3 separate regions of the Homo sapiens genome follow, and regions 1 and 2 are each linked to region 3. The links come from fine-mapping of genetic effects on gene expression. A gene starts in region 3. Each other region holds a variant in brackets. All regions are shown on one strand. Distances are between the middles of the regions.

Evidence for each region.
Region 1: its variant is fine-mapped to the expression of FMN1 in testis (GTEx, PIP 0.91).
Region 2: its variant is fine-mapped to the expression of FMN1 in whole blood (INTERVAL, PIP 0.95).

The regions. Positions count from the first base shown.
Region 1 is chr15:33,129,898-33,138,166 of GRCh38, forward strand. All of the region lies in intron 4 of FMN1 (formin 1), which reads right to left. Among named protein-coding and RNA genes, the nearest start is that of FMN1, 61 kb to the right of the region's middle. The variant G/A (reference allele first, on the strand shown) is at 3,262.
Region 2 is chr15:33,108,412-33,116,680 of GRCh38, forward strand. All of the region lies in intron 4 of FMN1 (formin 1), which reads right to left. Among named protein-coding and RNA genes, the nearest start is that of FMN1, 82 kb to the right of the region's middle. The variant T/C (reference allele first, on the strand shown) is at 4,440.
Region 3 is chr15:33,190,245-33,198,513 of GRCh38, forward strand. It overlaps FMN1 (formin 1), which reads right to left and starts at 4,470. Exons shown (of 21, transcript NM_001277313.2): 1 at 4,334-4,470; 2 at 3,665-3,816. It overlaps LOC105370759 (a long non-coding RNA gene), which reads left to right and starts at 4,667. Exons shown (of 3, transcript XR_932090.3): 1 at 4,667-5,331. RefSeq lists silencers at 4,449-4,788, 4,563-4,772.

The DNA.
Region 1 (8,269 bases), 60 kb before region 3:
TTCCCCTACCTCAGCCTCCCAAGTAGCTGGGACTACAGGCACACGCCAACATGCCCAGCCAATTTTTTTTGTACTTTAGTAGAGACGGGGTTTCACCATGTTGGCCAGGATGGTCTCATCCATCGTGATCCACCTGCCTTGGTGATCCACCTCGTGATCCACCTGACCTCGTGATCCACCTGCCTTGGCCTTCCAAAGTACTGGGATTATAGGCATGAGCCACAGCACCCAGCCTATTTTTTCATTCTTGATCCAAGTTCCTGCAAATTCAGAAAACCTTCCTCTTATGCCAGTTAAGATTGCCCTGCTAGCATTTTCTTTCTATTTTCATTATTTATTATAACTATTTATGTCATTGAGGAGAAATTCGTTGTGTTCAGAAGACTGTACAGAACTCAAAATATTGCCCTACATGTATATACATAAATATACACACTTCAAAACTAAATATATAGACAATTTTTCAAATGCTTAAGGTTAAGAATCAGTTTTATGAAACAATGTAGAAATATCAACAGAGATTGAGACAAGTTGTGGGCTGCACTGTAGTTTATTATAGCAAAGATCAGCAACCTAAGAATGAGATAAGGAGGTTTAAAAAATTAAGGTGATTTCATCCACTGGAGTATGTGCAAACATTAAAATTAATTTTAAGCAATTTTGATGACAAGAAAATGCTGTGATATAAGGCAATTTTGTTAATAGGTATATGCATTTTCAAAAGCCCAAATCATTAAGTGATAATTTCAGAGTTTTAGGGTTTGGAGCAGTTTTTATGTATTAGTTTTAAAAATAATTTGAGTCTCCAGTATGTATGTAATACCACACTGAATATTATTAGAGTCTGTATTCGTTTCAGAGTCAAAACACTTACATTTGCTTGTCTATTAAGATGTTTTGATTTAATTTTATTTATTTTATTTTTGGGCTGTTATAATTTTTAAAACTTGTACTGAGAAAAACTAGATGGGAGATTTGGTTCTATTTCTTACTAGCTGTGTTTCTTTAGCCAAGGTTACTTCAATTCTAGGCTTCAGTTTCTACATCTGTAGAGCAAACAATACTTGTGATGGTTGTCATAGAGTTGGTAGGAGAATCAGATAGAATAATGTCTATGAAAGAGCACTGTAAACTGTAAAAAGCTGTATTAGGCCGGGTGCGGTGGCTCATGCCTGTAATCCCAGCACTTTGGGGGGCCGAGGCAGGTGGATCACCTGAGGTCAGGAATTTGAGACCAGCCTGGCCAAATACAAAAAATTACAAAAAATACAAATACAAAAAATTAGCTAGGTGTGGTGGTGGACACCTGTAATCCCAGCTACTCGGGAGGCTGAGGCGGAAGAATCACTTGAACCCAGGAGGCAGAGGCTGCAGTGAGCTGAGATCGCTCCACTGCACTCCAGCCTGGGTGACAGAGTGAGACTCCATCTCAAAAAAAAAAAAAAAAAAAAAGCTGTATTAAAATCAGGATGTGCAGATGTGCATGGTTATTATTTTTATTGACTTTTATGGCTCTCTTTCTGAACAAGTAAATGTCAGCTGAAGATGGAAACAAGTGTTGAAAACGATCTCTAATCATAACTAGTCATTGATATACTTTCTCACTGTGTGTCAGTGTGGCCCAGACCACTGCATATTCTTCATGATCTCTCACAAACTGTGAACGTAATAATATGCAACACCAAGTGCTTGCTGCAGGAAATATCCTTCAAAAATACAACTACCCCACTGTGAGTTTCATGCAGAGAGATAATATCACTGTAGGCCACCTCCTCAAAGCAACCAGCCCGAGCAGCCATGAGGATAGGCCATCAGGAAACTGATGGGGAGGGGAGGTCTGAGCCCTGGAAAAGTGCAGTACAAAGGTGTAGTCAACACTTACTAGGTAAGTGGCCTCTGAGGGCAATGCAGCCTCAAGTGAGTGAAACATCTCTACCATGCTATTAAATGCTGTTTAAGTAGATGTGATAAAAGCATTTTAAGATCCCCAAAGAAAGATACTAGTCTGAATAGCACGGATCATTATTTTTCCACACCTGCTTTGACCCTCTCTACAAGAAGGAGAGAACAAGAACAAGATAAAGGCAGTCAAGTCCCAGGAAGTGCCCCGAAATGACCTTTGCCTTCCTTTCCACCTGGGGCAATCATTCAGACCAGTTAGGCAAAGGATCTAAAATAACATCTTCCACAGCTGGCTTGGAAGAAAGTCAAGAATTTTCTTTTCCCTCCTTTCTTTATTCCCATTACTCACTCTCTAAGTCCTCAGCTTGTCTCCCCTTCCCCCTCTTCCTTCTTTCCTGGCTGTAATATGCTTGTCTCAATTCTAATAATACCAAATATAAGCAGCTGAATATTTTCAATAAATCAGCACTTCTCCAAAACTACTCAACAGCTTCAGCTTCTCTATAACCACACTTCTCATTCCCGCTCTCTTGTACTACTGTAGTCTATCACTTTCAAGATGAAAGAATCAGCTAGTCTTTCTCAGAACTCAGCACGTAGGCTTCAGGCATAAAGAAGCTGCCTGTGTGCAACTGGCTCCTGTAAGGAATACTATATTTCTTTCCAATGTAGCCCACATCATGTCATTTGGAAAAGGAGCCTCAGACCAGAGCTGATTTAGAGCTCTGTAAGTCACAGAAAAGTGCCAGGTCGTTTGCAGTATTAATATTATATGCATGTATTATACCCAGGATACTCACCACACCTAAGAGCGGAGGGAAGAATTGCAACAGGAACATCCAAACCTGCAGCTTTCCAGCCTATTATTCTTCTTGGTGAGACATAAACCTAAAAGAACTTCGGGGGCCTTGGTGATTTGTTTCCTAGGAACACCTTTAATTTCCTTTTGTAATTTCAGACAGCACAGCCACTTGAACTCTTCCATCACTGTCTCTAGCTCCTCCCATGCACATGCCTGCCTGGACCTGTACCTCTTTGACCACATCTTCAAGATGTCTCCACAATAATCCAACCTGGAGAAGTCCAGAGGGGTTGTTAGTCTGTGAGCACACACCCCCCTCTACTGGACAAAACATGAAGAAACATACATGCCTGGGAAAGGACCACAGAATTCTGGAACAGAAAGGAATGCCTAATTAACTGCCCTCGCTTTGTAAAACCCAGGCCTACAGAAGTGCCCCAAGTCACAGACTTATAACAGGGATAGGGGGCCAAGCACTGCATCTCTTTGCCTCCCACATCAGGCACCATCACTACATAGAACTGTGTGTCCCTCAACAGTTAACTCACAAGGAAGAG[G/A]GGATTATGCAACTGAGTTCATGGGGATCTTTAGGTTATGAGTTAGAACCCTCCCAAGGCACAGCCATCAACAAAGAAGGAGAGTGTGTGGTTGAAAGAACAGTGCGCTGGGAGTCAGGGACTTGGTCTCTAGTCCCAGTTCCAGCACCTACAGCCTCTGCGACTCTGAGCAAGACACAGTCCCTGAGCTTCTCAGAGATCAGTCTTCTGGTCTCTAAGGAACCTCTCACAATATGAACACAGATCTATGGTTCTCTGTAAATGGCTGGGCCAAAGAGTACGAACAGGGCCATAGAAACTGTAGAAGAAAGAGCATTAACTGGAGTGCTAGAGACCTGTTTCCTAATTCTGGCTCTGGTGCCCATTAGCTACTTGACCTAAGGAAAGTCACTCTCTGGAACTCTGGCTTAGAAATAGAGATGAGGCTAGATGACCTTCTCAACCCCACAGTTTCTGTAATTGTGGCTAATGATAACTGTAAGTATGAATGCTTTCTTCAAAGGATCCTAAAGCCACAGGGGCATGTTGATACATCTTTGGGACAATGGAAGGAACATTAACGTTTCTACCCGTTTTATAATAAATGTAACTAAGGGCAAATATATCAAACTATTTGCTCAGAGTTCAGAAAAGCACAATTAGGTGTGCCGACTTCCAACCTGTGCTATAGATGAAACATTAGTCCAGGATACTAAGATCAAACCACAAAGCTTTTATAAGCCATGCCAGCCATCTATAAAATGATAAGTAGACCTAATAAATTACAAAATTAGATAATTAATTCTACATCTCATTTTATTTTTTATTTATTTATTTTGAGGAAAGGTCTCACTCTCCCAGGCTGGAGTGCAGTGGCACAGTCATCGCTCACTGCAGCCTTGAACTCCCTCAGGTGATCTCCCACCTCAGTCTCCCAAGTAGCTGGGACTACAGGCACACAACACATGCCCAGCTAATTTTTTGTATTTTCTGTAGAGATAGGGTTTTGCCATGCTGGTCGGGCTGGTCTCAAACTCCTGGGCTCAAGTGATCTTCCTGTCTCGGCCTCTTAAAGAGCTGGGATTACAAGTGTGAGCCACTACACCCAGCCAATTTACAATTTTAAGTGGGATTATAGAAAATAACATAACAATTAAATAAAGAGACAAAACTGTGGCAAGGATGCCACTGGATGGCCCAGGGATGTCTCAGGAGGCAGTTGTGGGGGAGGATGCTGAGGTAACAGTTCCACCTCACCTCACCCCAAATTACCCAGTGAACAACCATCTAAATAAAAAGTGTGTGTTTGGCATGTAAATGCAGTTTCAAAACAAGTTCTCTAGCTGCCTCATCACCTCACCTTGCACCTGGCTGCTGCACTATGGGAGTTCTAGATCCGCTAGACATTAGGGGAAACAGTAGTCGATTGGGGTAGCCTCACAACCAACGTTTGGGCTGTGGGCCACAAAGTCAAGTGGAGAGCACCGAAAGGAGAAGAAAGAAAAGAACTATGATCCTACAAGTTGCTTAAGCTCTCTGACATTCAGCTATCTCACTTTTTCTGAAAAATTTAAAAATGGAAGGCCAGGTGCGGTGGCTCACGCCTATAATCCCAGCACTTTGGGAGGCCAAGGTGGGCAGATTACCTGAGGTCAGATGTTCAAGACCAGCCTGGCGAACATGGCAAAACCCCATCTCTACTAAAAGTACAAAATTTAGCCAGGCGTGGTGGCTTATGCCTGTAATCCCAGCTACTCAAGAGGCTGAAGCAGGAGAATCGCTTGAACCTGGAAGGTGGAGGTTGCAGTGAGCCAAGATCGTGCCACTGCACTCCAGCCTGGGTGACAGAGTGAGACTCCGTCTCAAAAATAAATAAATAAGTAGGAAAACATTTTGAGTTACAATGTTTCACAGCTAAAATAAAGGTAGCCTATACATGGGAAATATTTTGCTTTTTGAGTTTCTCCCTTCATATTATCTTCCAAAGCCCCGCTTTTTTTGGTCTCCCAAGGAATGTTTTTTAAGTGTCAAAATTCACACAAAATGTTTGACTTGCACTTTAGATGTTAAATATACAACTATTTGAGGATCTTGCGCTAGAAGGTTCTCTACATAAATTATTTTTTCAAAAGGCCAGTGTAACCTTTTGAGAGTCTTTATCATCTCACCCTTTTTCTGAAGTCCTGTTTTGTAAAAATGTGCCCTTAGAAATAAAGAGAATATTGATTTTGCAATGTTGGTACAAACTGGACAACAGCAGGAAGATCTCAAAATAAGATAAGCCACTGCACAGCACAGCACAGAATAACCCAGTTAGGGAGGAGAATGTCTGCTCTGTCAGTCTGTCTTCCCTGGCACTGCTTCTCGCTGGCATCAAGTAGGAAAGATCCCTTTCAGCTTGACACAAGTATGCACTGTCCTTCTGAAATATGAGAAAAGCAGTTCCCTCAGGAACAAGGAGGCCTCGTGCCAGAGGTTAGTGAAGCTGGAGAAACCGAGAGCTTGGCTGGCAAGGACTGTGTAAGATGGGACTCTCTCTGTTGGAATGCTAGTGGAATCAGTTAGGTTACTTCCCCAAGGTTATGCAATGTTCTTAAAATATACTACTTAACACTGGATAGAATTCTTATCGTGCATTGCGTACCAATACTAACTGTTCTATTCTATGAACCAAAAAAACCATGGAATGTCTTTTCCCATCACCCACATGCCCTGCTGTACATAGAGTATACAATTGGCTGATTATGTTTTGGTCTTCACCCTTCTAGAATGAGTGTGAGCTCCATGAGGACAGGAATTAGCTTTGCTTTTTTCTGTTTTGCCTACTGCTCTGTCTACTATACTTAGAACAATGATGAATATATGATAGGGATTCAATAAATATTTGTTGAATAAAAAATGTTTTGAATGCTTTTGTAGATATAAATATAAATAATCAGAATGATGGAGCTGTGTTCACTACTTAAGTTCAGAGCAGATGGCTTCATGGCCACTGAAATTATCCCCATGACATCACAATGTGGTACAAAGGGAGGACACAGGATTTAACATCAATGTTGTCCCTCTGCTGTTTACTTAGCAAGGTACCCTCTCTGAGTCTTAGCTCCATCCTCACTCAAAGAGAGATGTCATTATCTGCTTCAGGGACAGGACTGTTAAAAATTGCACAAAAGTATATGTCTTGGAGAGGTTTAAATTTCATGGGAGAATATGAAAAACACACATTTTTATGCATATATACAGTCTACCCACGTAGACAAGAAAGACGTATAACCATAAACACAGAGACAGACGTGTTTGGGAAGAGCTTCAAATAGGACTATGGAATAGTTCTTAAACTCCCACTTCCTAATTTTATAACAGATTTCAGGGTGAAAATGTCTAAGCAAGTGGTTTTTTTTGATGAACCATGTTTTAGTTATTTCCTCCTAAAAACAGAAGCAAGGATCGTGGTAATGGCTCTACAGGGTTTGGCTCTGAAATGTGTCATCAGTCAAGATAAATTTGTGCTGGTCAATATAACCCTAAAAACAATGTTTTCTCTTTAATTTCTATCACCTGTTTTAAAGGTATTTTTATCTGCTATATTGAATGCAAGTCCCTTAAATGATTTCTGGAATGAGGTAGAACATAACCAAATAAATAATTTTTTAAAGTAGACAGAAACATGCCAGGCATGGTGGCTCACGCCTGTAATCCCAGCACTTTGGGAGGCCAACGCAGGCAGATCACCTGAGATCAGGAGTTCGAAACCAGCCTGGCCAACATGGTGAAACCCTGTCTCTACTAAAAATACAAAAGTTAGCCAGGCGTGGTGGCGGGAGCCTGTAGTCCCAGCTACCTGGGAGGCTGAAGCAGAAGAATCGCTTGAACCCGGGAGGCAGAGGTTGCAGTGAGCCAAAATCACAACACTGCACTCCAGCCTGGGCGACAGAGCAAGACCCCGTCTCAAAAAAAAAAAAAAAAAAAAAAAAAAAGACAGAAAAACATACCCTCCCCAAACAGGGATTTTTAAGAGAATCTGATAACAATGTATGTAAAAGTTCTGGGTAAGCAATGAAGTGTGTACCCACAGATGTCACTGAAATTGGTGGTTCTTATTCACAGCTGGCTTTCAGCCCATGCCACCCTTGCCTTTCCCCATTCCCTGTTGCCATGGGACCTTCACTGTTGCCTGCACTCAGTAGCAAAGCACCTCTTCTACATTTGCCTCTTCTACTTAAGAGGCCAGGGTAGGAGTTTTAGAAGCATTCCAGAGTTCCCTCTGCCTACCTTGAATGAGAAGGGTAGCTATATATATTTCTAAGAGGAAAAAGGAAATCTGTATGATTCCAAACTAATCCCAAAGAGTAAGACATGACTGATCAGTAGAGCCCCAGATTAATGAGCTCAGAGGATAATGTTTAATGATATCACCAAAGAAGTGTCCACATTTCTTCCCAGGAGAGGATTCTGATTTTTATTCAGATTCCATACAAGAAATTACTTTTCCTACCACCACCGGACAATGTATTTCCTTTCAACATACTATGTAAAATGCTTGCACATTTCTTTACACTGGGGTATGGCTTCTCTACATGATTACAGACATCAGAGCTAAGAGGGGAGCATCAGGTACTGCGGTTTCTTAAAGAACCCACCACCATACAGCTTGCCCAACAAATTGCCCTTCTGCTGTGTTCCAGGTTTTCAACTCATCCCCTGTTACAAGGCACAGTCATGAAGAGATGAGGGACTGCAGCTGCAGTCGGCCAGACCTGGTGTGACTCTGGGTTCTGCCTCTTATTAGCTGGGTGACATGGGCCACGTACTTCACTTCTCTGACTTTCCATTGCTTCCTCTGTAAGATGGAGATAATAATAACTATTGTGTAGATTATGGTTTGGCTTCAATACAATATTTGTCAACTGTCCAAGTCAGTATCTGGTACACAAGAATAAAGGACTGCTGTTGCTGTTACTGCTATTTGTTAACCAGTATCCATAAGCACAACTGCCTGCTATGACACAGGACAACGAAAGTGATGAAG
Region 2 (8,269 bases), 82 kb before region 3:
AGAAGAGAAAATACATTCAAAATAGTATTATTTTACTCTCCTTGCCCTCCAAGAAAAAACAGCTTAAGTTATTAGATTGCAAGGTAGATAACATAATTCTCTAACTCTGCTATTAAACAACAAGAGGCCTGGAGAAACTGAACTTAAAGAGAAAAAAAGAAGAAAGTTAAAGGATTTTTTAAAAGGCTACTATATAATGAAAACTACCCAATCATTCAAATTCCTCTCCCCACTCTTAAGAAAGGTCAACTGATAGCCCTTGGCTCCTGATGTGTAACTATATCCTATTCCTCTTTTGATGTTCTCACCAAGAGGGATTTAATTGCCTTTTCCTTGATTCATTAGATGGTCACTTCAAAGAGACCTTCAAGAGGCAACATTTGCCCAAACAACTCCCCTGTCTTAGTAAATCCAGATAAAACCCAAAAAGCAATTCATCCTAAATTTCACACATTGTTGTCTTTGGCCTCTGTCAGTGACCTCAGCCTACAATATTGATTACCACTCTGCCTCCCAATATGAATCCTTCAGACAATCAATCAGTTACCAGGACAGAGAAGGAGTTATCCAGTCTAATACTAAAAATGTCCCCATGCCTACAATTAACCCAAGAATAAACTAAACAACCTAGCAAACTTGTCATAACTTTACCATTTATAACCTATTTCTTCTCCCAAAAGCAAGGAAGGCATAAAACATACTTGGTCTAGAGTGTGCTAGACTCTATTCAAGACAAAGATGGATACTTGGTTTAGTAACAAACTAAAATATTTTATTAAATTAACGAATGTCTTTGTTCTAAAATGCAAGTAAGGTTTTTGAGGTTCCTGTACAAAAACAACATAGAAATCCACTATAGTTTCCTTACTTTTGTCAAAACATTAATAGATAAATGGCCAAAGGGAAAATAAAAATAAACAACCAATGAGTATGGGGAAATTTTAAACACCATTAGTAATAGCTAAAAGAATTGCAAGCCAAATGAAATGCGAGCACTATTCACAATAGCAAAGACAGGGAATCAACCTAATGTCAATCGATGACAGATTGGATAAAGAAAATGTGGTATATATAACACCATGGAATACTACACAGCCATAAAAAAGAATGAAATCATGTCTTTTGTGGGAACATGGATGGAGCTGGAGGCTACTATCCTTAGCAAACTAAGGCAGGAACAGAAAATCAAATACTGCGTGTTCTCACTTATAAGCAAGAGCTACATGGTAAGAACTTATGAACACAAAGAAGGAAACAAATACTGGGGCATACTTAATGGGGGAGCATGAGAGGAGGGAGAGAAACAGAAACAATATTCGATACTGGGCCTAATACCTGGGTGATGAAATAATATGTACAACAACCCCCCATGACACGTTTACCTATGTAACAAATCTTTACATGTATCCCCAAATCTAAAATGAAAGTTAAAAAAAAAAAATGCAAGCTCAAAGAACATTTCACTGTAAATCAGGAAGTCTAAAACCTTAAAAACCTAAAAAAGTAAGACAGTGCCCATGGATGTTTAAGTTAGCACCAGCACTTCACCTAGCAACTGGACACAGCAAGTTCCCATTAAATATTTATTGAATACATAAATGGGTAAGTGCACGAATACTCTTCAGGCAAAAAGTATATTGAATAAAATTTGGAGAAACAATTTGGTAATAAATATTAAAATAACTGATAATTGTCATACTTTTGACAATATAACGCTTCTCCTAGGAATCTACCATAAACAAATTCTCTAAAATGCAAACATTCTATGCAAAAATACCTGTCAGATTATTAGGACACTAAAAAACCATAAGCAAGTAAAGTGTCCAGAATTAGGTAAATAATACATAGATGGTCTATTCTCTTTGCAGAATTGTTCACAATAACTGAAACAATATTTATGAAAAGTTAAAAAACACAGGAAATGCTTATAACATGTGGAACCAAAAGGTTATGTATCAAGTTCAGGAAATTTTTTAAAGTACAGTAAAAAGACTGGAAATAAATGTAAATTTTAGCAGTAATTTTTCTATGGGTGGTGATAATGGAAGGTTTTTTTCGTATCCTTATGAATCTTCTATATTTTTCTATAATGGCCATATAATAGTTTTGTAACAAAAAGGTAAAATTCTGTATTAACCAAGGAGAGCATTTTTTGAGAATAGCTATTCTGTCATGCATCTCAAATAATATCAGTAAAACACGTCCCCCCGCCCCTCACATTGACGCTTCTTTTTCTTTTTAATATTTGATTATATTCAGATTAAATTTATATAAACACAGATCATTAAAGCATTTTGATGACTAACAGTCTTTTATTTAAAAATGCAATATTAAATCCCAATTAAAACTATTTTGCTATTCCTTTAGCCATTTTCTCTGTTATTAAAACAAAAATAAGAACAACTTGTCAGTATTTTTAGTCCATTAAAATTTTCCCACATTAAAACAATTTTTAATGTCTTGGCATGCAGTATATTTTTACTAACCTTAAAGAAGTTCTAAAAACAACTCCTTTACATTTTTCAAGATGCCTTTGTACAGCAATTATGATAATTATTCCGAGTAAATGAGTTAACACATGTGAAAAAGTGCTATGGAATTATAAACTGCCATTCAAATGTTAGTTTTACATTTTTATGGTATGCTATTCCTGACCTTACATTCATTTCTCATGGCATATTTCCATTTCCCTCACAATCTATGAGATGATTCATTTGTGTGTTTTCCATGGTGCTTTGCACATGCCCTCTATAAATCACACTGATTTTTAAAATGTACATTGTAAAATGCTTTCAACCCTACACAAGTTAATTTAAAAAATAAAAAAACTTAAAGGATCCTTTGAAATGCAAATCGAAACCTCAGTAGGATACCACTTCACTGGGATGGCTATAATTAAAAAGGCAGATAACAACAAGTGTTCATGAGGCTGTGAAGAAGTTGGGACTCTCACAAGATTGCTGGTGGGAGCCTAAAATGGTACAGCAGCTCCAGAAAACAGTCTTGGCATTTCCTCAAAAGGTTAAATCAAGAATTAGAATACAACTCAGCAATTTCACTCCTAGAAATAAATCCAAGAAATATAAAAGCACATGTCCACACAAAAACTTGTACACAAATGTTCGTAGCATTACGCATAATAGCCAAAAGGTGGAAATAACTCAAATGTTTGTCTACTTATGAATGGATAAACAAAATGTGCTATATCCATATGAAGGAGTATCTTTTGCCTATAAAAAAATCTCAAAAACATGCTAAGTAGATGTGGCCAGTCACAAAGACCACAATATTGCATGATACCACTTACATGAAATTTCCAGAACAGGCAAATCTACGGAGGCAGAAAGAAGCTCAGTGATAACTTGGGCTGGACGGGGTTGTGGGAAAATGGTGAGTGACTTCTGATGGTATGGGGGTTTTGGGGGAGGTGATGAAAATGTTATAAAGTTGATTTTGATGATGGTTGTACAACTGAATATATTAGAAACCACTGAATTGTACATTTTAAATGAGTGAATTATATGGCATGTGTATTATATCTTAATAAAGCTGTTTTTAAAAAGACTCAAGTTACCATTTTATATGAATTGGTTGTATCACATTTTACTGTAATTTTTTGGAAAGAACTGTAGTGTTAACAAAGTTTTTGTATCTTTTTACAATTTCATGTCTATGAAAACAAAAAGCTATATAAATAAAGATTTTAACCACAGCATTTTTATTGGTTTCAACTTGGAAACAATTTAAATGTCTAATAATGGATTTAGTACCATAGTCATCTACATGATAAAATGTTACCCCTTAAAATTATAAAGGTATAATTAAAGAGATGGTATATAAACATTAGAAGTTTGAAATAATGTTAGGTGGCAGTGCATAAAACAAAATATTTTTATATAATTTTGTTTCCATGACCTTTGTTATTTAAAAACACCTATCTCTATGAAGAGTTGAGGTGGTTGGATTATAGAAGATTTTGTTGTTCTGTACTAGTTTTCTTACATAATTCTTTTAATTAAGAAAAGAGGAACTGTTATTGCTCCATTAAACAAGTACTAAGCACAACTATGCAATGAAATTAAAAGGTTCCCTAGAGATGCCGAACCTAAGAGCATTCGGTACCTGCAGCAAAGAATTTCAGGCACTAGTGCTTAGTTTAACCCCTATCATAAAAACACTCCAAAGATATTAGAGGCAAGAAGGTGGTTACAAAAATTCCAGCTCATCAACTGACTGGCCTATATTCTACTTGTACATCTGGTGTATTTTTTCACCACTACTTGTTGAGTACGTGATAACAGTCACGGCTGCCCAATCAACAGAATTTTAGGATATTTTCCCTGTTCTGCTAGAGATCACATGGGAAATGTGGGTTGCTAGGAAGTGGTGTGGGTAAATGGCAAGAAATGAAGGGCATTTGCAGCAGAGTTATCCAAATG[T/C]CAAGGCCTACACAGCTACTGGGTTTATATCGTCAGAAAGGTTAAGCCTCCAGGTTACAGCTGCCCTAGGCAGTCCTGGTGTACTGGGACAAAGGGGAAGGCAGGGAAAGTCTAAGAGAACCTTCGCTGTTAGGTGCTTTGACAACAGTGTCTTCTCTATTTTCTTCACAATGCCTCAGTGTGGCGGAACAAAAGAACAAAATACTTATATCTAAAGTACAACCAAAGTGTTTAACACCCCCAAGGCATATCTACCTCTCAATATGCTGTTTCAAATATCTGCATTTATTGGTGTAATTTGGATGCTTTGTGGCCAAAGCTTGACCTGTGTACTGTGTGATCATTTGTTAGGGGGTTGCTCACTTTCTGACATATTCTTACCTAAAGGTCAGTGGGCTCCTTGACATGAATTCAAACAACTTCAGTGAAGTAATTAAACAGGATGAGTGTTGCCATGTATTTGTAACGTAGGTCCACTACAAAATTTGAATTATCTATTGTTTTAAACTATATAAGCTTATTTTTTTCAATTAATAGTTCAGTGATTTCATTCCAGCCTTTCTTTCTTTACAAAATTTTTGTTGTTGTCTTATACTGTTTATGTAACATAGATGTGAACATAGGGTACGATATAGACAATTATGCAGCCTCTTTTTTCCAACAACAGTTTGCTCCTCCATGAAGTACGACCCTGCTCCCCCATCTTTAGTCAATACCTGCGCTCCTACAGAAAACACAAAAATCATCCAGTGTCAGTATACGGAGGCACCTTCCTCTACAGCCCACCTCATACCCCAATTTAAATAGTACCACCACCCACCTTCTGTTACTTCTCCCCCTTCTAGACAGGGGCCCCACGTTGAACACTGTGCATTGGATTCCTGGTGCTCCACCTCAGAGCCAGCTTCCATGGCCACGTCAGTTCTTTCATCTGTGACTCCTTCCAGACGGTCTTACAGCTGAGGCCCCTGAGGTACCAGCACACTTCAAAACAGAGCCTTCTTTAACAATGAAACCCTGACTGGAAACTGCTTCTACTGTTCCTTTAATTAGCCTTAACGATGTTTTCACCCACAAGTGTGGGAAACCAGATCCTTAGCCACCTACCTGCTCCTTAGCTCAGGAATTGCTCTAGGCTCAGTTATCTAAGGTCCAAGTCAAGCCTCCTCCCCTTGGCAGTTCTCCAAGATCTTGTAAGCTGGTTTCCTACCCAACACCTTCTCTTGGAGCAGCTCTGTTCAGAATTGTCAGCCCGGTTTCCCTCTGAGCCTGTTCTGCCGTCAAGGTCCTATAGGACACTACTGCTAGTGCCTGCCCTTTATATCTCAATGTGCTGCAAGATTGGACAGGAGGCACCACATGGCCTCCTAGGCCAGGCCTATGGGTTATTATTTCTACAAGTCCTTGCTTGTCCAAGGACGAGGAATGAAGCAGCTCAGGACTCTAAAGTATAGCATCCTAAAAGCCTAACTTCTGGACAGTGACATAAGAAGAAATAATTGGCCTCTGGCTGCCTGAACATTTAGACCTAAACATAAATATATGCAGAAATGATAAAAATATGAATATTTTGCAAAGAATCTGCATAAGTGTTGAACATGGAATGTGTGGCCAGTGGATTCCGGAAGCCTGTCTGTCACATCTGTTCCGTTTCAGAAACAAGTCATTGTCGATCCAATCATTTGAATCATCCAGTCGCTTGTTTGTGTACCCAAGAACACCACGCAAACGCGAGTCTCTCCTCGTCTCATGACAAAAGCACTTAGGATTTCCTTCCCCTGCCACATGACCAACAATGCACCTTCTTTTGGAGAGAGCCTGTGGGTAAATAGTCACAACTGCTGTAATGTCTCCTAAACTATAAACTCCATATTTCTCATCACCTGACAGGTAGCATGACCCAAATGCCCCAAAACAACTACAGAACTATCATTAAAGGAATAGAAATAATCCTACTTTAGCTGATAAAATTTAAGATCTTTGACTTCTGGAAATTAACTTTTTTCCCCTCCCTTATTTTGCCTATCCATGTTTGAAAAGATGCAAGCATCTCTACGTTACTGTCCAGCCAGCTAACTGAAAAGTTTAGGGGTCTGGTGGCTGGGCAGGCCTCAGAAGATAAACTGACCTGCACTGATCCTTCATTCAATATATGATCCATGTATTGATTTTATAGAGTCCTCAAGACTTCATCTATCAATCAGTCAAAATGCTGATTAAGCACCCACTATGCCAGGCACGGAATCATATGATACAAAGATAACTAAGACAAGGCCCTTGCCTTCAAGGAGTCCAGTCTCCCATGGGGAAAATGAAGAACTAAATAAATTCTTAGAATTTAAGTGTTAAAAGGAGAGTACTTAAGAAATAAAGAGCAGAGTTGCCTAAGGCTGTCCTATAAGGAGGGTGGGAGGCTAGGAGTCACAATGGGACACTTCTCATGGGAAATAATACTTGAAGGATGAATAAAATCTAACGAGTCAAATCAGAAGAAACATGTACACATAAAAGAATGTATGTGTAAGAAGATGGCATATTTTCAACGGACTGGTATGTGGGTTGCTTATGAAAGAGGTAGGCAAGGCTCAGGTTGAGGTCCTTGTGTACAGCCTTGCTAAGGAAACTGGATTTCATCCTTAAGCCCCCCCCCCCCACACACACACGCACACACACAAACTTGCTGTCTTGCCAGCCTCCCTCACATACACCCTCCCCCACCTCTCCTATCTTTTACATTCAAATAATTCTTCCACAACCACAATACACTGAGCACCTGAAATCCAGCTGTGCACAGCACCTGCATCAGGTAATTGTCTGGAAATTCTTGCCTGTTTCCTCTAAACCTGTTCTTCCTCACCCTTCCTGCCTCTCATATCCCTAAACCTATGCTCCGCTCCCATGTTGCTATTTCTGGCCAGACTTTCAGTTACCACTTAGAAGTTCCCTTTCCACCTTATGGCTTGACTCTTAACTCTTTGTGGTCATGAGATTTTATTAACCTTAGCAGCTTCCAATGAGAGGAATTCTCCACCACCTTTACTCCAACCAGCAAATCCATTTGCATCATTATTCATTTCAACTAGATTCTCTCACACACCTGCTTGCAATAATAGTAAGTTTCTCAGGTAGCTTTGGGCTGGGCTGAATTAAAGAATTTTCTTAGGGTGAATGGGGACTGTAATCACTCACCTTAAAGGTATATCCAGAAAGACTATAGAGATCCAACTATAAAAAGACATTCCTGAGTTTTAGCTATGTCCCTGGCATTTGGATAGTACTATGGTTTTCCTTAGCCTTATTAGTAGTTACTTAAATCCCCATTTATACAGAAAAAAGATGTAAACGTAGACTAACTTTTTCACTGGGATTGACCTAGTCTAGGAAGCATAATGTTCTACTTTCCTTTATACCTGTTTATAAAACTCTTTTAAAGTATCCTTGGTTCACATTAATCTGTGCTTCATCCAAGGACAAGCTTTGGAAAATCACAGCAGCCAAGTTGCAACAAATCCGAGGCAGCCAACTGTTCAAACCGTGTTCAAATAAGGCAAACGCCCAGCTGTAGCCAATCCAGCTGTTTCTATGCCTCATTTCCGTTTTCTGTCTATAAATGTTATCCGACCATGCGGCAGCCCTGAAGTCATTCTAAGCCTATTCTTGTTCTGGGGGCTGATTCAAGAATCGTTCTTTGCTCAATTAAATTCTGTTAAATTTAGTTTGTCGAAAGTTTTTTTTTTAATTTTTTAACACCTCCCAGGCTTAAATTATTTCTGCTCATTATTTGGCACTCCATTCCAGCCTCTTCCAGCAAAACTGCCTGTGATAAAGCA
Region 3 (8,269 bases):
AGACTGAAAAGAGTTCTTGAAACTCTAAAGAAGAGATTTTAGAGAACATGAGACAGTGCTACAGTCACCTGTGTGCTGCTCAAAAGATGGCATTCATTCAATTTCATTTGAATTTCATTTGTGCAAATATTAAGGTTTTGGAAACCATGAGGTTTCCCAAAATTACTATGGTGAGTGAATCACCAGGGAGGGCTTCTCCTAATAAGTAGACAGTTCTCTTTCTCTTTGAGAGGTCCATATTTTTCCTTATGTTTCACGGAGGACATCATTGGAGAAAGCACCTAGGCCTAGATGAATGTGGATAGATACTCACGTGGGGGAAAAATGGAAAAACAGGGCAACTATGGCTAAAGGAGTGTTTAACAACAAGCACTGCTGTCTGACGCATTTCTAGACTACTAGTCTTCAGATCGTATCATGTTCTCTGAGCTTCTTTAACAAAAACATGAACTAGAGCACTCATACTGGAAGGCCTGTGGCAGGGGTGTGAGTACTAGTATCCTGGCAGCAGCATCATAAAGGTGTCTCCTGCCCCACTTTTACAGCCTTGTCTATCCTCCCAGTCAGCATTCTGGCGGTCCCTGCTACTTCTCCATTAATGCCCAGATCCTGATGACAAACATGAACGTTAAAAAGTCCTGGCTGGCCGGACGTGGTAACTCACGCCTGTAATCCCAGCACTTTGGAAGGCCGAGGCAGGCAGATCACAAGGTCAGGAGATCAAGACCATCCTGGCTAACACGGTGAAACCCCATCTCTACTAAAAATACAAAAAATTAGCCAGGCGTGGTGGTGGGCACCTGTAGACCCAGCTATTCAGGAGGCTGAAGCAGGAGAATGGCGTGAACCCGGGAGGCGGAGCTTGCAGTGTGTTGAGACCGTGCCACTGCACTCCAGCCTGGGCAACAGAGCGAGACTCCATCTCAAAAAAAAAAAAAAAGTCCTGGCTACCTCCAAAATATTTTGCCCAATAGCCTGTCACGTGGAAGACCACAGTAAAAAAGCGTTTCATTTGAAAGGTGTTCATCATTAGCAGTGACCTATGACACTTTAGAAGGAAGAGATAGGCATAGTTCGAATAAGATGGAACATAAAACAAGTCAGTATCAAGTTAAGGAAATAGGAGGTGTGTTGGTTAAAGAAAAAAAAACTTAACTAGTAGTCTGCTTCCTAGAGAGATGCATTACAGAGATCATGGTCATTTCAGGCCAGTGGGGAGGTAAGGATGTCCACAAGGAGGACCAACTCTCTTCTCTCTCCCTCATCCTCAAACATGCACTAAGGCAGTATTTGCTGAAAGCGTAGATAAGCACAGAAATCCAGGTTACTCTGGGAGATTGTTTACTTTTAGCCAGGGAACTTGAGAAACATAAGTGAGAGGGAATGCTCCATTTCTCAGACCCTTGCTTTTATGCGCTGACAAGGTAAAGAGGTTTGTTTCCTTCTTTACATCTCCCCGCTTTAGTAATTACTATTTTGCAGAGCATGGGGTTGATGCTTTGTCAGCACTTCAGCACAGACACTAAATACAGAGATGCTTCAGTTCCTTCACAGTGCCAGCCTGTTGGTGCAAGCTTATATTTGCTGCAGGAGAATACAATTCCCATGGTTTAGCGTCTCTGCAAGATCAGGCAAATCAGATTAACAGCTGTAATTCTGTCAACACAGGCTGGGACCTGTTGAGAATTAAGCTGATATTTAAGACAGAGACTATGTACATCTAAAAATAATAGCTACTCTTAAAACCAGGTCCCAAAAAGAGATTATGAATAGCCCCTAAACGTGGTCATACTACCAACCAGTAGCATCACTGCAAGATATGAAATATCCATTATGAACTTTTACACTGATACGAATAAAGTTTTAATAAGAAAACCATTAAAGGCAAGATCATCTAAAGCACACCACAGCTTGGGATGGTGTGCATGAATCCAAAACTTTAACGTAAAACTAGACTTTGAGGCATGGTATATGAGATAGGAGAGAAGCATTTCTCAATTTTCTATCAAGGATATTTACCATCATCACATCAAGTTCCAGTCTGTCCCCATTCCTCTTCCTCTGGGAACAGCTCCACCAATTTTATGTCTGGAAAGGGAGGATGACCAGGATATGAGACCTACCCTTAGACAATCATAGGTCCTATGGGACCCCATTCCCTTGGCCAAAGCATTTGGTCTAGGCAGGGTTAAGCCTGTGACAAAGGCTTCATCAATCACAGTCAATGCATTGAACACTCAGTGAGAAAGAAGCAGTCTAGAATAGGGCCAGAGGCCTGGAAATCTTCTCTAAAGCTGCATCTTTAACGTATCTCAACTAAGAATCGGCTAAGTACTTGTGAAGGCTGGTGAGAGAAATGCCTGTCCAAACACAGGTGGCTTCAATAGTGGCACCCCTCTAAGATGTAGTGCTATAAGGAACCTGAAGACTACCATACCCCATTTGCATCAGCTCTGACACCTAAAAAGGATAAAGACAATGGAAAAAAATGCATAATTTTTAGGAACGAGACTGGCCTTTATTATCCTTCTTGACTAGTATTATTAATAGCAGTTACTATAAATTCCCCACTTATGTGCCAGAAACTACTGAGTATTTTACCTATATTATCTCGTTTAATCCTCACACCTTCTCCTAAGAGACAGGTAGTATTATCCCTATTTTACAGACGAGAAATTAAAATTAAAGAGGCAAGCAACTTGCAAAAATCACTGAGCTAGTCAGTGGCTGGTCCAGGATTTGAACCTATGTCTGACAGGTTTATGAGTTTAGCCATTACAATATACTGTCTCACTACTCTTCTCCATTGTTTCCCTCCATTGAGGCCATTGCTTCTTTGTTCCTGCAATATGTCTAACTATTCATTGGTCCTGCTCCTGGACTGTAACACAGTTGAGAGAAAGGAGACTAGTGTTTAGATATCTGATCAAGAAGACCCGAGACCTCATTGATTCATTGTGGAAGCAACATCTTCCACAACGACAGTTAATCTGGTATGCAATTCTCAGCTATACTGTTTTCCCTCCCAAAAAAGGGTTAATAAGTCTGTGATCCAAGAGATTTGCAGTAAGCCCTAGAAACAGCTAAGCAACGGCTGTTGAATCCCATTGGTGTGCCTATAAGATGCTACCTGGTGTAGAGAACAGAATATAATTCTCTCTCCTAGGAATTTAGATGCGCCCCTCCGCCCCCCTGCCAATACACACGCAAGGGGGCATAGCAGATGATGGCACATGTCCCATATGCAAACATGAATAGTAAACATGCTTTAGTACAGCTGGAGCTACTGTAGCAGAAAGTCAGGTTGTCTGCTACTCCACCTGGTCTTCTTAAAGGATTGGGTCTGGACATTCACCTCTCAGTGACTGCCACTCCCCATATATATCACAGGTTCAGGCTCTGCATTCAGCCCATTCGGAGTGTGTGAGTGCTAACATGGAACTCTCCAGGAGACAGCAAGCAGAAATGTGGATGATTAAAATAAAGGGTTTTCTTTGGCAATCTCAATTGCAAATGAGGATAAGGAAAATCCTCCCAGCTCACACTCTGCTCCCAGCTACTTGTTCTTGAGTTAAATGAGGGCTTGGCTCTGGCCTCAGGGGGCAAGAGCACTGTTCGTTATTTGGTGGTGGGGGAGGGGGTTGGGGGATCCGTCAGCACTTACATGCCTTTAGAGAATCTGCCTTTACAGAACTTGAAGAGCTCTGATGGAGGAACAGAGATGCTGTGGTGGTAGTGGCCTTGGAGGTGGTGGTAGTGGCAATGGTGATGATGATGATGATGAAAGAAGAAGAAAACGGTGATGGTAAATGTCATCTATAAACACAAGCAAAAAGCAGCAACAGATACCTTTCTAGTCATTGCCAACCATAGTCATGAAGCTGCTTCTGTTCCCAATGCAATCCCATTGTGGTGCTCCCCCTCTGCGCTAAACACATCCAGCTTCAAAAAAAAAAAAAAAAAAAAAAAAAAGCTCTGCATCTCTCCGTCCCCCGCCCTCCCGCCCTCCCGCCCTCCACCTTTCCTGTGCCAAGCTGGGAATGAGACTGCACTGGCGGGTCAAGGGGGCTGGGACCTGAGAGTCAACGACAGGAGTTCTGTAGTGAGGAGCGTTGGGATGACCCGGAGGGCCCACCAACGTACTTGGGAGCAGCTTGGTGGGGGAGCTGGAGGAACCGACACAGAAGGGGAGGAAGATAAGCTGGCGGGGTAAATAGACTTGATGCCTCATTCCAAGAACCCTGAAAGCCACGGGGGAAGGCGGAGCAGGCAGCCTTTGGTCGGGAAGAAGAGACGGGCAGATGGCCAGCAGAACAGACAAGACTCTCTTTACCTGACCAATACTCGGGAGGCTGGTCCCGAGTCCCAGCTACTCGGGAGGCTGAGGCAGGAGGATTGCTTACGGCAACAGCCGTGGCGGCTGCAGCCTCGAAGGATGCTGCGCTCCAGTCCAGAGCCAAAGCCCAAAGGGGCAGCTGCGCCGACCTCCACCGAGGCTCCGCCCCACAGGCCACAGGCCCCGCCTTCCTAGCACGCGCCGGCCTGACGAGCTGTTTGGGGGAGGTGAGCAGTAAACTGATCGGCAGGGCTGAAGACCAGTGGAAACGTGCAGCGGCGCCCGAGGTGGCAGGGGAGGCGGGGCGGGAGGCGGCGGTGCCCAATCAGCAGCCGAGCCGTTGGGCCAGGCTGGGAAGCAGTGCTGTCTTTTGGCACCGTCTGATCCGGGCTGAGGGATTGAAGGCGGTGGTCGCTAAGCTAGGTCTAAGACGGACAGCCAGGGCGACAACCAGTCTCTCGCTACGTGTCCCCAGCTTCCCTGTTTCCGAGCGCCTCTCAAGGCGCACGCTCTGGACTTGTTCAGATGGGGGAAGGGAACTGGTCTGGAACTCCCCACTATTCCCGAGGTTCCCACGCCTCCAGATCCGGAGAGGCCGTTTCGCTCCAGTGGCCTGGCCCCCCTGCCCCCTCAGCCTAGCCGTTCTTGATCGTAAGTGCTAAAAGGAACAAAGAAGGAGAATTCAAGAATCCACACATAAGCCCAAACCCTGACAGGAGCCTTTTCCTCTCCCATCTCCTGCCTACGCTTCCTCCTAGTAGCTTTTTAACTGCTGGCGGTTAAGTTACTTTGACTGGTTTGAATTAAACGCAAAATAGGTTTAGGCTGAGAAATGGGCCAGACCCTTGGCGATCTGAGAAAGAAAGACTGAGTCCGGATGTCAAGAGGCCTGGGCCTCACGAGGGAGTTTGTCTGCTTATTTGAACACCTCAGAGTTGAAGATCTTGTTACTGCTATTTCTGTGCTGGTGAATCAGTACAGACCTTGATGCCAAGGTACTGTTTTGTCCCCAAGTGTCTAATCATTACTGAAATGAACTACCTTCAAACCTTTCCTAAGAGGATTTGAGGCCTTAATGTCGTTGAGATTTGGAATGTGATTTGAGTGACACTGAGATCTTTTCCAAGTAGGTAGGCAAGAAAAGGCATTGTCTTTAATCTGCTTTTGGATAAATGCGAACTGTATCACCCATTTGGTACTTGAAGATAGAATTTTGTCCTGAATAGATTCTGTTTTCAAATAAGTAAATGGGAAAAAAATTTGGAAGGTATTTTTAAGGTGATTTTTTTCACTATTTTTTTTCTAGAAATAATAGTTTATTGGAACTCTGATTTATTCTTAATCACAATATTAGCCAAACACTGATAGGCCCTTTATTTATTTGTTTTTTTAACACACGGTCTCACTCTGTCACCCAGGCTGGGGTGCAGTGGTGCGATCTTGGCTCACTGCAGCCTCAACCCCGTGGGCTAAAGCCATCCTCCCAACTCAGCCTCCAAAGTACCTGGGACTACAGGCGGGCACCACCATGTCCAGCTAATTTTTTAATTTTTTATTTGTAGGGACAGGGTTTCACCATATTGCCCAAGCTGGTCTCAAACTCCTAAGCTCAAGCGATCTTCCCTTCTCAGCCTCCCAAAATGCCGAGATTACAGTTGTGAAGTGCTGTGCCCGGCTCCATAGGCACTTCATATACATTATCTCCTTCAATCCTCATATCTTCCCCTTGTAAATTCCACTTATAGATAAGAAAACTGAGGTTCCCAAAGTTCAAGTAATTGTCCTTGGGTCATGTTCGTAGTTAGGAGTAGAGTCAATACGAGGTCCGTATATCTCCTGTCTAAAAATCATCATCATCAGTTAGAAGAATAAGAAGCCCTCAGTACGACTCTTAATTCCTTGATGCTTTTTTCTTTTTACCTGAAAATTGTCATATAGGGATCCAGTTTTCACACTACTGACTTCTTGAAACCGCAGCCTCAGAAGCACCTTTAAGAGTGAAGTGTCACCTCTGACATGTGTTAGGAGCAATTGCAAGTCAACTTTGCTCATAGAAGGGAGCTGTGATTTCCTATTGTTGGGAAGGAAGTAAAATTTTGCAGGGCTTAAGTCAAACTAGGTTTTAATTGATGTAGAAATCTTTTAAAGTCCACCCACAAAATAATATCATGGTCGTGTGAGCTGAGTCCTAGAAAGGTAAAAGGATGTTAATCCAAAGTCATATTCCAGCATTGTTTCAACAGTGTTCTGAAGAAATTCCTAAATCCTACTCTGGCCTTTAATCAAACCTGGAAATATGTACTTGCTCTAAGCTTGGTAGGGGGAGGGAGTAGGAGGTGTTTTAAAGAGAAAGGAGAAGAAAAATATTTTCCCAAAGAGGCTATTAATAAAGACAAAATATAAATAAGTTAAAGGTTATAGATCAATACAAAGGTATACACTAATTAACAAGTTAGTGGAGTTTTGTTTTGTTTTGTTTTGTTTTGTTTTGTTTTGTTTTGTTTGAGACAATTTCACTCTGTCACCCAGGCTGGAGTACACTGGTGTAATCTCGGCTCACTACAACCTCTGTCTCTCAGGTTCAAGTGATTCTCCTGCCTCAGCCTCCTGAGTAGCTGGGACTACAGGCATACACTACCATGCCTGGCTATTTTTTGTGTTTTTAATAGAGATGGGGTTTCACCATGTCGTCCAGGCTGGTCTCGAACTCCTGACCTCAAGCAATCTGCCCGCCTCGGCCTCCCAAAGTGCTGGGATTACAGGCGTGAGCCACCATGCCCAGCTTGTTAGTGGAGTATTTATGTGATCCTTGCTTAATAAACAGTTACTGGCCGAGAGGATTGCATGGACCCAGGAGTTTGAGACCAGACTGGGCAACACAGTGAGACCCTATCTCTACAAAAAATAAATGTTAAAAAATTAGCTGGGTGTGGTGGTGCATGCCTGTAGTCCCAGGTACTCGAGAGGCCGAGGCAGGAGGATCACTTAAGCCCTCGCACTGCAGCCTGGGTGACAGAGCTAGATCCTGTCTCAAAATAAAAAATAAAAAATGAAAAAATAAACAGCTACTAAGTGCCTAATATATGTTATTGTACTAGACTCTAGGGATATCCAGTTCAATAAAGCCCATTTCCTAATGGAAATGCACAGCCTAGCTGAGAACACTCAATCTGGACCATACCTGAAGAGATCACTTTATCAACAAAATTACTAATCTTCACAACCACCCAGCAGGGTAGGTGTTATCACCACCTCAAGGCTGAGGAAACTCGGACTAGAGAGGATAGTGACTCACTTGAGGTTGCAAGTTTAAGAAAAAGTCTTGACCCCAAATCATTCTGACCTGGAGGCCCACATTTTCTTTCTTTCCTTTTTTTTTTTTTTTTTTTTGACGGAGTCTCTGTTGTCCAGGCTGGAGTGCAGTGGCGCAGTCTCGGCTCACTGCAACCTCCGCCTCCTGGGTTCAAGCGATTCTCCTGCCTCAGCCTCCTGAGTAGCTGGGATTACAGGTGCCCTACCCAGCTAATTTTTTGTGTTTTTAGTAGAGATGGGATTTCACCATGTTGGCCAGGCTGGTCTCAAACTCCTGACCCAGTGATCTGCCCGCCTCAGCCTCCCAAAGTGCTGGGATTACAGGCATGAGCCACCAAGCCCGGCCAAGGCCCACATTTTCACAATATACCATACTGCCTGCCTAAGAGAAAAAGCTGTCTCTGATAATCCTTACCGAAATGCATTCCTCTGTGGAACATGTGAAGTAGATGATACAATGCCTATGAATTCGAAATTACTAAATTTGGTCAATTTGCTTATCAAAGGGAACCAAGAAAACGGAAATAATGGTCCTTGCCTACCTGGGGCTTAAGGTACTATTTACACATTCTCGTTTGAAGTCCCCAGGGGTAAATAGGATTTCATGGGATTCCCCATTCA